Linked DNA regions of Homo sapiens. The protein of the gene in region 2 purifies or fractionates together with the protein of the main gene of each other region. This does not show direct contact. Each region holds a gene or a part of one and is shown on either strand. Other genes may lie near its edges.

The links. The genes of interacting proteins can lie anywhere in the genome.
Region 1: the proteins of LRRN1 (region 2) and PTPRD purify together in Homo sapiens (affinity purification with mass spectrometry; 2 studies listed by BioGRID and IntAct, with this or other methods). This does not show direct contact.

The regions. Positions count from the first base shown.
Region 1 is NC_000009.12:8,516,350-8,521,466, reverse strand, and holds part of PTPRD (receptor-type tyrosine-protein phosphatase delta isoform 1 precursor), read left to right. Parts: coding exon 1-190; intron 191-3,037; coding exon 3,038-3,619; intron 3,620-5,117.
Region 2 is NC_000003.12:3,804,878-3,809,994, forward strand, and holds part of LRRN1 (leucine-rich repeat neuronal protein 1 precursor), read left to right. Parts: intron 1-5,117.

The DNA of each region.
Region 1 (5,117 bases), on a different chromosome or scaffold from region 2:
GTGGCCGTGGGGTCACCAATGCCTTATGTAAAGTGGATGTTGGGGGCAGAAGATCTGACACCTGAAGATGATATGCCAATAGGAAGAAATGTGCTAGAACTGAATGATGTAAGACAGTCAGCAAATTACACCTGTGTTGCTATGTCAACACTGGGTGTCATTGAAGCAATAGCACAGATCACTGTCAAAGGTATGCTCAATGGATTATGCTTTGAGGATCTGGGTACACTCAAGCCAAGTGACTAATGCCTCTAGAAAGCCCATCCTTGAAAATCTAAAATAATTCATTATTCAGCATTTTAAATGTGTGTATAACCTAATCATATCTGTGGTATTATATAACATGCATAAGCCTAGATAGGCGGATTTTTTCTTGGAAGTATCTGGCAGCCTATGTAGAGATAATCATCAGAATATTAAAAGACAGTCCATGGAGGCCCAGGCACTAACCAGACAGAACTAGGAATTTTACACATGGTCGACCATTATGGTGGGACTGATGTGTACAGTCTACATACTAGACCAGAACCTTGATAAGAACCCCAAGAAAAGTCAATATGAGCATTAATAAATGCTTAAAATTTCTAAATACAAAGGAAAAAGAAGAAAAAAAAAGTTGAAATCAACATAGTCTAGTAATAGATGATTTAACTTTTTGGTGAGCCCTACTATTAAAAATCAAAAGGCAAGTAAGAGTATATTCTGTTGTAGTTTTATCTTTCACCTTGCATAGATGAGTGCTCAAGGAATATTCTTTCCTTTAAAAAACAGACTAAATATAACCAAAGTACTATATTACATGAATATTTTTGAACTAAAGAGAAAGAGTACAAGCATGTAAGGGTACCGTTTTTTTTTCCCCTAGTGTTTATAGAATTCTAGAAAGTGTTTGCAAATTGAGTCAGACATAGGGCAACTTAAGTTTTCTGCAGATGGCTAGAACTATTGCAAAATGAACACAAATTATCTTCTTTTCCTAGGCAATGTTGTAGGCATTTGGAATTCAGCAGCAAGTAAGAAGTACAAGTTTGCTACTCTTGAAAAGCTGCCATTCTAGGGGGTGATCTTAGAAAATGCAATACACGTTATAATTGGTATCGCATCTCTAACCAAGCGTATATATCAAATATATGCTATATAAAACTAATGACATGAGAACAAAGGTACACATTGTCAACATTTACAATCGTGAAATAATGTTATATTGTGTAACCTTAATATAATAAGCACACATGTATTTATCCGTACATTACAGACATAAAACCTGTACTGTACAATAAATGTGACTTAGTGAAACTAATAATGTCAGCTAAATATCAGTGAGCACAGCTTTAATTAGCAATATTTGTATTTGCTTTGAAAGTTCAGAAAGACATGTAGGGGAAATCTGGAGCACACACAGCCTTGAAAAATGCCAGGTCAGAATATTTAAACAAATTTCATTTTATTATTATTTTCAGTAAATTCCCTTGACAAAATACTATCATTCTGTAGTTCTTTGAGTAGTGTGTAAATATTGAATCACCTTTTTTATAATTACCATTTCAGCTTTAAATATTTGAAGGCTTGCTGAAGACCTTTAAGAATTCAAAAGCAGGGGCCACTTTAAACTAATATTTTGTTCACCTTCTCATCTTTGTTTTCCTGACTCTTGCCACTTCCCTGTCTTTTCCACCTCAAAAATAAACAAATAAAACATAAGAGTGAATCTTAATGGCAAATTAAAATAAATCAAAACAAAAGAACAGGTTGAAGAGAATGAGGTGAATGGGTGCTGACTCATTTATTCAGTTAACTGTTTAACGATTCTCATTAAAAACCTACCGAGTGCCAGGCAGCATTCTAGGCATTCACAATTTTACAGTAAGTCAGAAGTACAAGTTTGCTGCTCTTGAAAAGCTGCCATTCTAGGGGGTGTTATACTTCTTGCCTTTATGTTGGCAAGGAAACAGGGACACTAATGGGCTGATTATATGAATGTTACCCTTTGAGATTTCTCTAAAGAGTCAACTATTAGAATGCCCCTTCCTACCCTAATAGCACTGCGTTTCAGAATCATTGTTTAGAATAAGGCACTTGAATATGAGGTCAGCAAAGCAGACAGTTTATATTTTTAATTAGTAGTATTTTGATTTGTATTCTTCTGCTAAAAAGAAAGAATTAGACCTCTAAAAAGATGGATTTTATTGCAAATATTTGTCATGTAGCTACATTGGATATTTCTGATGTGGAATATAGAATGCATATTAATATGACCATAACATACCTTAAAAAGTGATTGGTGAATGTGCCTTAATTTACTTCCTTCAGCAATTTTTAAATATTAAGAATAAAGCATTGATTTGAAATTTCTATTCTTTTGCACCTTAAAATTTTTGGTTTTTCATTTACAAGAAAATTTTTAGTAATGGTATTGTGTCTTACCAGAATATAGATGTTATTGTTTCATCGCAATTTAATTTCATTTCAATGTATTCCACATTTTGTTCTTTTCAATGTTTATCGGTATTTCAGTTATACCATTTATTTATTGGGGCAAGGGGCTAATTGGCCAAGCTTTTGGTATAATAATAGTAATAACTGCAGCTAATACTAAGGTTTTTTTGTGGGTTCCAGTTACATTCTAAGAATCTTAGTGGATTGGCTCATTAGTCTTCACAGCAAACCCATGAAATACAGTTACATACAGCTGTATAATATGACTTAAATAATAATATTTTTCCCATTTCCACATGAGGAAACTAAAGCAAAGAGAGGTTAAGAAATGCGTGCAGGATCACTTAGCTAATAAGTAGAGGATTTGGATACAAGCCTAAAAATATGCTATCAAGCCCTTCTAGGAAAGCAGGATTTGTGTCACCTATGAATGTTTTCCTGTCCTTCTTGGCCATTCAGAAAACTACTCTTTGCTATAATTTCATTTAATTAAATCTTCAGTAGATACATAATCCTGTCATTTTCATAGTAGAGTTTATAGATTTTTGAAATATTATAGGGATGATGGGTAGTCATTGTCTTTTATCTTCCCCCATCCAAGCCTTACCCAAACCTCCAGGAACTCCTGTAGTGACCGAGAGCACAGCTACAAGCATCACACTGACGTGGGACTCTGGGAACCCTGAGCCTGTTTCTTATTACATAATTCAGCATAAACCTAAAAACTCTGAGGAACTTTACAAAGAAATTGATGGGGTGGCGACCACACGCTACAGTGTCGCTGGACTAAGTCCCTACTCGGATTATGAATTCAGGGTTGTTGCTGTCAATAACATTGGGCGGGGGCCTCCCAGCGAACCTGTGCTAACACAAACCTCAGAGCAAGCACCATCCAGTGCCCCGAGGGATGTCCAGGCACGAATGTTGAGTTCGACCACCATTTTGGTACAGTGGAAGGAACCTGAAGAGCCAAATGGACAGATCCAAGGATATAGAGTTTATTATACAATGGATCCCACTCAACATGTCAACAACTGGATGAAACACAATGTAGCTGACAGCCAAATCACTACTATTGGCAACTTAGTGCCCCAGAAAACATATTCTGTCAAAGTCCTGGCTTTTACCTCAATTGGAGATGGTCCCCTTTCAAGTGACATACAAGTCATCACTCAGACAGGAGGTAAGTTTGGTTGAGGAGGGAAATAGGGCAGGAGGGAAGGGCTGGTGCAAAGAGGTGAGAAGGACAAAAACAAAGAAGGAACAAAGATGGTATGAATTTTAATTTTTGAGATTTAGGGCTTCAAAGCAACAGATGATAGATATCTGAAAAGGAACAAGCATGGACATCTGAAAAACTAATCATTTTGAGCAGAACAATGCATTAACACCCCTTCTTTTTAATTTGTATGGGAATGACTTGAAGACTTCTCTATGTGAGATAGAACAATGTCTCCCCCATGCCCAGTTTTGAGAATAGAAAAACGACACTTCTTTGTAATAGCTAGTATGGTAGAGTGGTCTCAAAAGAGTATTTAATTTGTGTAAGATTGGATGGTTCAAGACAAAGCTAAAAAATAAAACTGTTACAGGGCCTTGGGTATTTAAATGGCTTATATTTGCCAGAAGCTACTGGCTTGAAAATAAGTATTCTCTGAGTGGCTTTAATTTCTGTTTTTCTCTGTATGGCCTCAGTGGATAAAGAGAGACAGTTACCGAGATCTCAGATAGAACATTGGGCCTGATTGATTAACTTTGCTAAGAGCTACAGCAGACATTAGACTATTTTATGAAGGAAAACTTGGCCCTCCCAGTGGTTTTATTTTTCTAAGAGGTTATCAAACCTCTTTGGTCTTTGAGTCAAGGTGATCAGTTTGGCTTTGGGCTAATATAAAATAACAGGCCTCTTCTAAAGTTTATTCTTGAGCCACGCACAGTGGCTCACGCCTGTAATCCCAACACTTTTGGGAGGTAGGTGGATCACTTGAGGGTCAGGACTTTGAGACCAGCCTGGCCAATGGCAAAACCTCATCTCTATTAAAAATACAAAAATTAGCTGGGCATGGTAGCAGGCACCTGTAATTCCTGCTACTCAGGAGGCTGAGGCAGGAGAATCACTTGAACCTGGGAGATGGAGTTTGCAAGTTTGCAGTGAGCTAAGATTGTACCACTACACTCCAGCCTGGGTGACAGCAAGACTCCATCTCAAAAAAAAAAAAAAAAAAAAAAAAAGTTTATTCTTGAGCATCTGAGAGCTACTTCTTTGACTCCTTATTGTGTTGGCATCTTTTAAACCTGCATTAATCTACGAATGTTTTGGCATCATGCTGTTGGCTTGTTTTGAAATCTACATAATAATCATATTATTGGAGACAGTATAATCTGTAGACATAACTCATTGCTAATCCTGGCAATGAATTAATAAATTTTCTCAGATGCCAGTACTAGATAATGTACCTATCATCTATTTCACTGATACCTGTGAATCACTGACTTGTTTTCATGGCATGGTCTTTATATGAAGTATGTTTAACTATTTGTCCTTGCTTCTAGGAATCTCAGAGCACATTTATATTAATAGTTCGCCTGCCTTTATTTTCATACCATTATTTGGTTCTTATTGGCTTGTTCATGGATTTACTCTTTTCTCTATGACATTGTAGGAAAGCCAGCTATAAAAA
Region 2 (5,117 bases):
ACACATAAATTAGTCTGCCATTGTATTCCGGAGCCACCATTTCAATCCAGGGAAGAGAGCCATCCTACAGTGGTGTCCAGGAAAGGACAATCTTGGAAACAAAGATTTTCAAGGGAGGCATTTCCAGCAATGCCTAACCTCTTCAGGAGAGTGTCCATTTAATATTCATTTCAAAATATTTGCTCTTCCTATTTGTGACTGCCCTTTGTGAGATAATGTATTAGCATAGTCATTTTCAATTTGCAGGGGGACAGTGGGCAGCACCAATATTAGCACCTATCTCAGTAAGACCTAGGAAACAAAAAAGGAGTTTGCACTATTAAGCAGTGAGCCACAGAAAGAATCATCCTTTAGAAAAACTAAAAAAGCTTTAAAAGAGAGAAAGGTGGCTTAATTGGTTTCATGCCTATAATTTTCCCCTCTAGAAAGAAAAATGTTAGCATGGCAATAAAGAATATCATTAACCTGCATTGTTATTTCACAATAGTGATAAGTCTTAGTTTGCATCCATAATAATCAGTGTAATCAAGTACTGTACAGAGAATCAGGAAGGCGCAGGCTCAATTCCCAGCAATGACACTAATGACTCAATGTCTGACCTTCTGGATGTCCTGCAACCATCCCGGTGCTTCATGGCTCTATCAGAGTTGTGCGTTAAAGGATCCAGGAACACTGGTAGATGATTTCAATATCACCAGTGCGAATAATTTGATTTCTGCCCCAAGAGCTAGAATTATATGGAGAGCTAATGGTCTGGGTACAGCCCCTACCTTTCTGCAAGGTGATGTTTCTGGTCCCTAATCCCATAGCTAAGAGATTTTGTTGTTCTTTTTAAAATTTTCTCTCCCTAGCATTGACAGTTTCTCACCACCTCACCTGGGCCCGCTTGAGGGGAAAAATTTTACCAGGGGTACAGGAAGCCATTTACAATCATTAAACATTTGTTCACCTCACAAGTATATATTGAGCACCTGCTGTATGCCAGGCATTACAGAAGGCAGTAAAACTGAAATAAGTTAGCTTGATTTTTCTGCAGCTTGTACATTGGAGCATTTTGTTTCCATCAACCTATGCATTCTCCTACAAGTATTTATTGAGTGCTCTGTAGGAAAAAGGCACTCTGCACAGAGGATTTCAACCAAGGGTGATTTTTGCCTCTGAGGGGACATTAGGCAATATTTGGAGCCTTCTTTTTGTCATCGCTGTCACAAGTGAGGGTGGGATGAGGGTGTTATACCGGCATCTAATGGGATGCTGCTCAACATCCTAAAATGCATAGCACAGGAAGCCCCACGACGGAGAATTATCTGGTCCAAATGTCAGTAGTCGCAAGGATCCTGCCTCTGCCCTCAGTGAGCTTCAGTCTAGTCGGGGTTACAGAAAGGAGACTGACAAGTGCAGCATAGCGTGCTATGATGGTGGGAGTGCAGGCTACACAAGTACAGAAGCAGCAGCCTTAACTCAGATGTCAGCTGCCAGCAGAGGCTTTAAGAAACAGACTGGTTAATTCACAGAACAGGCTTTCACCTGCCACACAAGTGCTCAGCAGGAGACGATTTTCCATCTAGCCTCTTTGAACATAAGGGGGTTGGATGGTTGCTTGAGAGAGGGTAGACTCCTTAAGTTTGTCAAGAACTTTAAACTGAAGATGGAGTTAATTCCTTGTAGGAGTTGGTCAGAATTCAGTGTGTCTTGAGTAAACGGGAGAGGAGGCTGGAAACAGAGAGAAAGTCGATAGCAATAGACATAGGACAGCACAAGCTGCATGAAGAGAAGATGCAGCTGAGTTGACAAAGCTGTCACTGCCTCATATTTTAGAGCTTTAAACTTTGCCAAATCCTTAAATATTTATCTCATTTGACCTATAACATCCTGAGAAACCAAATGTGATTGTTCTTTCTCCTTTTCCCCAGTAACTGAGGGACAAGAGTCATGGAGAGGTTCATTGTGACTGTGGACAAGTCACTCGATGAAGTTTATCTGTAAAAGGAGAGGTCTTGTGAGGCTCCTCTTCCCAGCACAAGTTGAATTTGTCTAGGGTCACCCATCTAGGGGGAGACTGGAGGTGGGATAAGACCTGAGACTCCTGTCTCTCTCAGACCTAGTGTCTTCCACTCAGATGGTAGCAGCTTCCTAGACCGTGGAGTCCTAACAGGTAACAAGCTGACGGTGACTCAGCATGCTAGCTCTTGGGTTACCGAAGAAAGCAAGGACCTACGATGCATCGGTTAAAAAGTATCATGCAGAGAAACTTAAGCTGGGTTTCCCCTATACCTAAGGATTAACCACGCCCCCTACCTAATGGCTTATCTTAAGCTGACCTTAGCCACTTAAAAAAAGACTTGTGACAATCTGGGAAGAAAGGTTCATAGGAGAGTGCAGCTAGAGTTAGAAAACGAGATAGAAAATGGGACAACCCAGAACATGTGGGAAGAATGGACTGCCTAGAATAGATGTTATAGTGGTATCATTTTCTGTTTTCATTGATTTTTGTTTTTTCTTTGATAGGAGCGTTTTAACTTTCCTATCAGAGAATAATGACCAGTGTATACAGATATGCACACTTACATGCACACACATCACACATATAGAGCAGGGGAGACAGATTTCATACAAGTTTATGTTTCTTTCTTGTTTGTTTAGTAAGACTTGCACGTCAGAACGAGTTTTGGAGAGAACCTTCCCTCAAGGTCTTATTTCTGGTTTCTCTGGGATAATGAGTGTAAGGTTTCCTATGAGAAGTAAGACTGAGAAGCCACATGACTACTCAAGGTTCTTTTCATTCTCTGTGGTTTCCAGGATCAGGAGTGAGAGTTAGGTAGGACTTCAACCATATCCTGAGAGTTTCCAGGACACATGTGGAATCTACATGAACTCATCAGACCATCAGAGAACCATAAGGACAGTGGAGTAGCAATGACTGGCTTTCTCCAGGTTGTTATTCCAGCTGACTGTGGTTCTGTGCAGTGAGGACTACATGTAAGGCCTAACCCCCCAAAGGACCAGTTAGCTTTGCTGTGTTCCACAGGGACACAGCCAGCCTCCTCACGTACTCAGAAACTCATCCTTTCTCATGGGGAGGCCATGTGAAAAATGTAGGTCACTTCAAAGCCATCTGAAGGCAAAACACAAAATATGTGGGCAAAGGCTGGTGGGATATGTTTCTCTTCATGCATTCATTCACACTGTCAAATTGGAGTCCTGGTGAACAAGTTCCCAAATGGCTTCACTACCAGGATTGAGCACTGGAGCGGAGATTAGTTCTATGCAAATGAGATGCTTTAGTGATCGAGAGGAAAATATTACATAGAGCTCCCAAATTCTATCCCCAGAGCCCACCATTTTTCCTAACGTAGCATACAGTAGTAGCAGTAGAATAATGATACTCTACACTGTGCCTTTCCAATGTGTTGGGACCCATCACCAACACCTTATGTGCATTAACTCCTTTAATCCTTGCAACAACTCTGTAATGTAGACACCCACTTTATAGCTCAGGAAACTAAGGCAGACCGCAACTAAGTACCTTGCCCAAGGTCAAACAACTAGTGTGTATGTAATAAATATTTGTCAAGTGAATGAATGAATGAATGAATGGGTACACATCTGTTTTAGAGGAGAGAGTCCTTTATTTGAATTCTCAGTTTATGGCATTCCTGCTTTCCAGGCAGAGCATTTTCAAGAACTGCCTCTGTGACTTGTGAATGATAGGGGAAGAGCTGGTCGGTGGAGAAGCAGGGGTTGAACTTGGGTCTGTCTGACTCTAAACCTGTACTGTTAAAGTGCTTGGCTATATTTCTTCCTCTTTAATTGCAGCTATAAAACAAGAGGACTGGACTACGTTAGCTCTCTTAGCCCATTCCACTCAAAAAGTTACATAATTCCATATTAAAGTCTATGTAAAATAAATCACTTTTTTTTTATTTTACTACTTTTAATTTTGAAATCTAGTTTGGTATTTTTATTTAACCAATCATTGAATTATCTTTTAAAATTATATTAGAATTATTAACAGAACATATTTATAAACCCTCTTTAAATCATTTTAAATGGATGAGAATGCATAGTTACAGATTGCATTCTCCTAACCCTTACCATCTCACTGCCTATTAAGTTATATCATCATTGTCTAAATTTAGGTGTCTAAAAATTGAAAAGCATCTTTTGTTACACAGGGAAAAGACAGGTAAAGTGATTAATTTTGAAAAAATTACTGCCGATATTTGCAGAAATAAGTAGGTTGCTGAATCTAATGAATAGTATTGAATGATTTTTTTTTCTTTAAGATGGAGCCTTGTTTCTGTCGCCCAGGCTGGAGTGCAGGGGCGTGATCTTGGCTCACTGCAGCCTCTGCCTCCGGGGTTCAAGCAAGTCTTGTGCCTCAGCCTCCTGTGTAGCTGGGATCACAGGTGCCTGCCACCATGCCCAGCTAATTTTTGTATTTTTAGTAGAGACAGGGTTTCACCATGTTAACCAGGCTGGTCTCGGACTCCTGACCTCAAGATATCCACCTGCCTCGGTCTCCCAAAGTGCTGGGATTACAGGCGTGAGCCACTGCCCCCGGCCATGAAAAGTATTGAATGATTTTTATGAGCTTCAAACTGCTAGCAATATTAAAAGCTACTACTTGAGATTCGCTTCTAAGGATTGTTTTGCTTTAAGGTATCCTCCTGACATGCAAGTGAAGCATCAGAGCAATGTGTCAGTCATTGCCGTAGTGTTACAGGACATGCAGCCCAAGGCAGGGGAAGGAGTGGGTAACAAGGCATGTCCTAGATTTGGGAAGAGTTAGTTTCAGAACTGCTTCTCAGCTCTGTGATCTAGAGTGATTTCATGGAACCTCAGTATCTACATCTGCAAAATGGGGATGATAATAGAGCCCGCCTCTTAGAATCACTAGAATCATTCAGTGAGAACATGCATATAAAGTCCTTAGCACAGTTCCTCTTCCAAGGTACATACTTAGTATACAGTAGCAATGAGTAGAAGTGGTATTTGTGTTCAAATCTGACATTTCTGCCTGCTACAAAGTCTGCATTCTGAGGATGCTAATTCTGAGGCAAGTGGAGAGATTTTAAGGGACAAGAAGACTCAGACTAGATATTTTATGAAGTCCG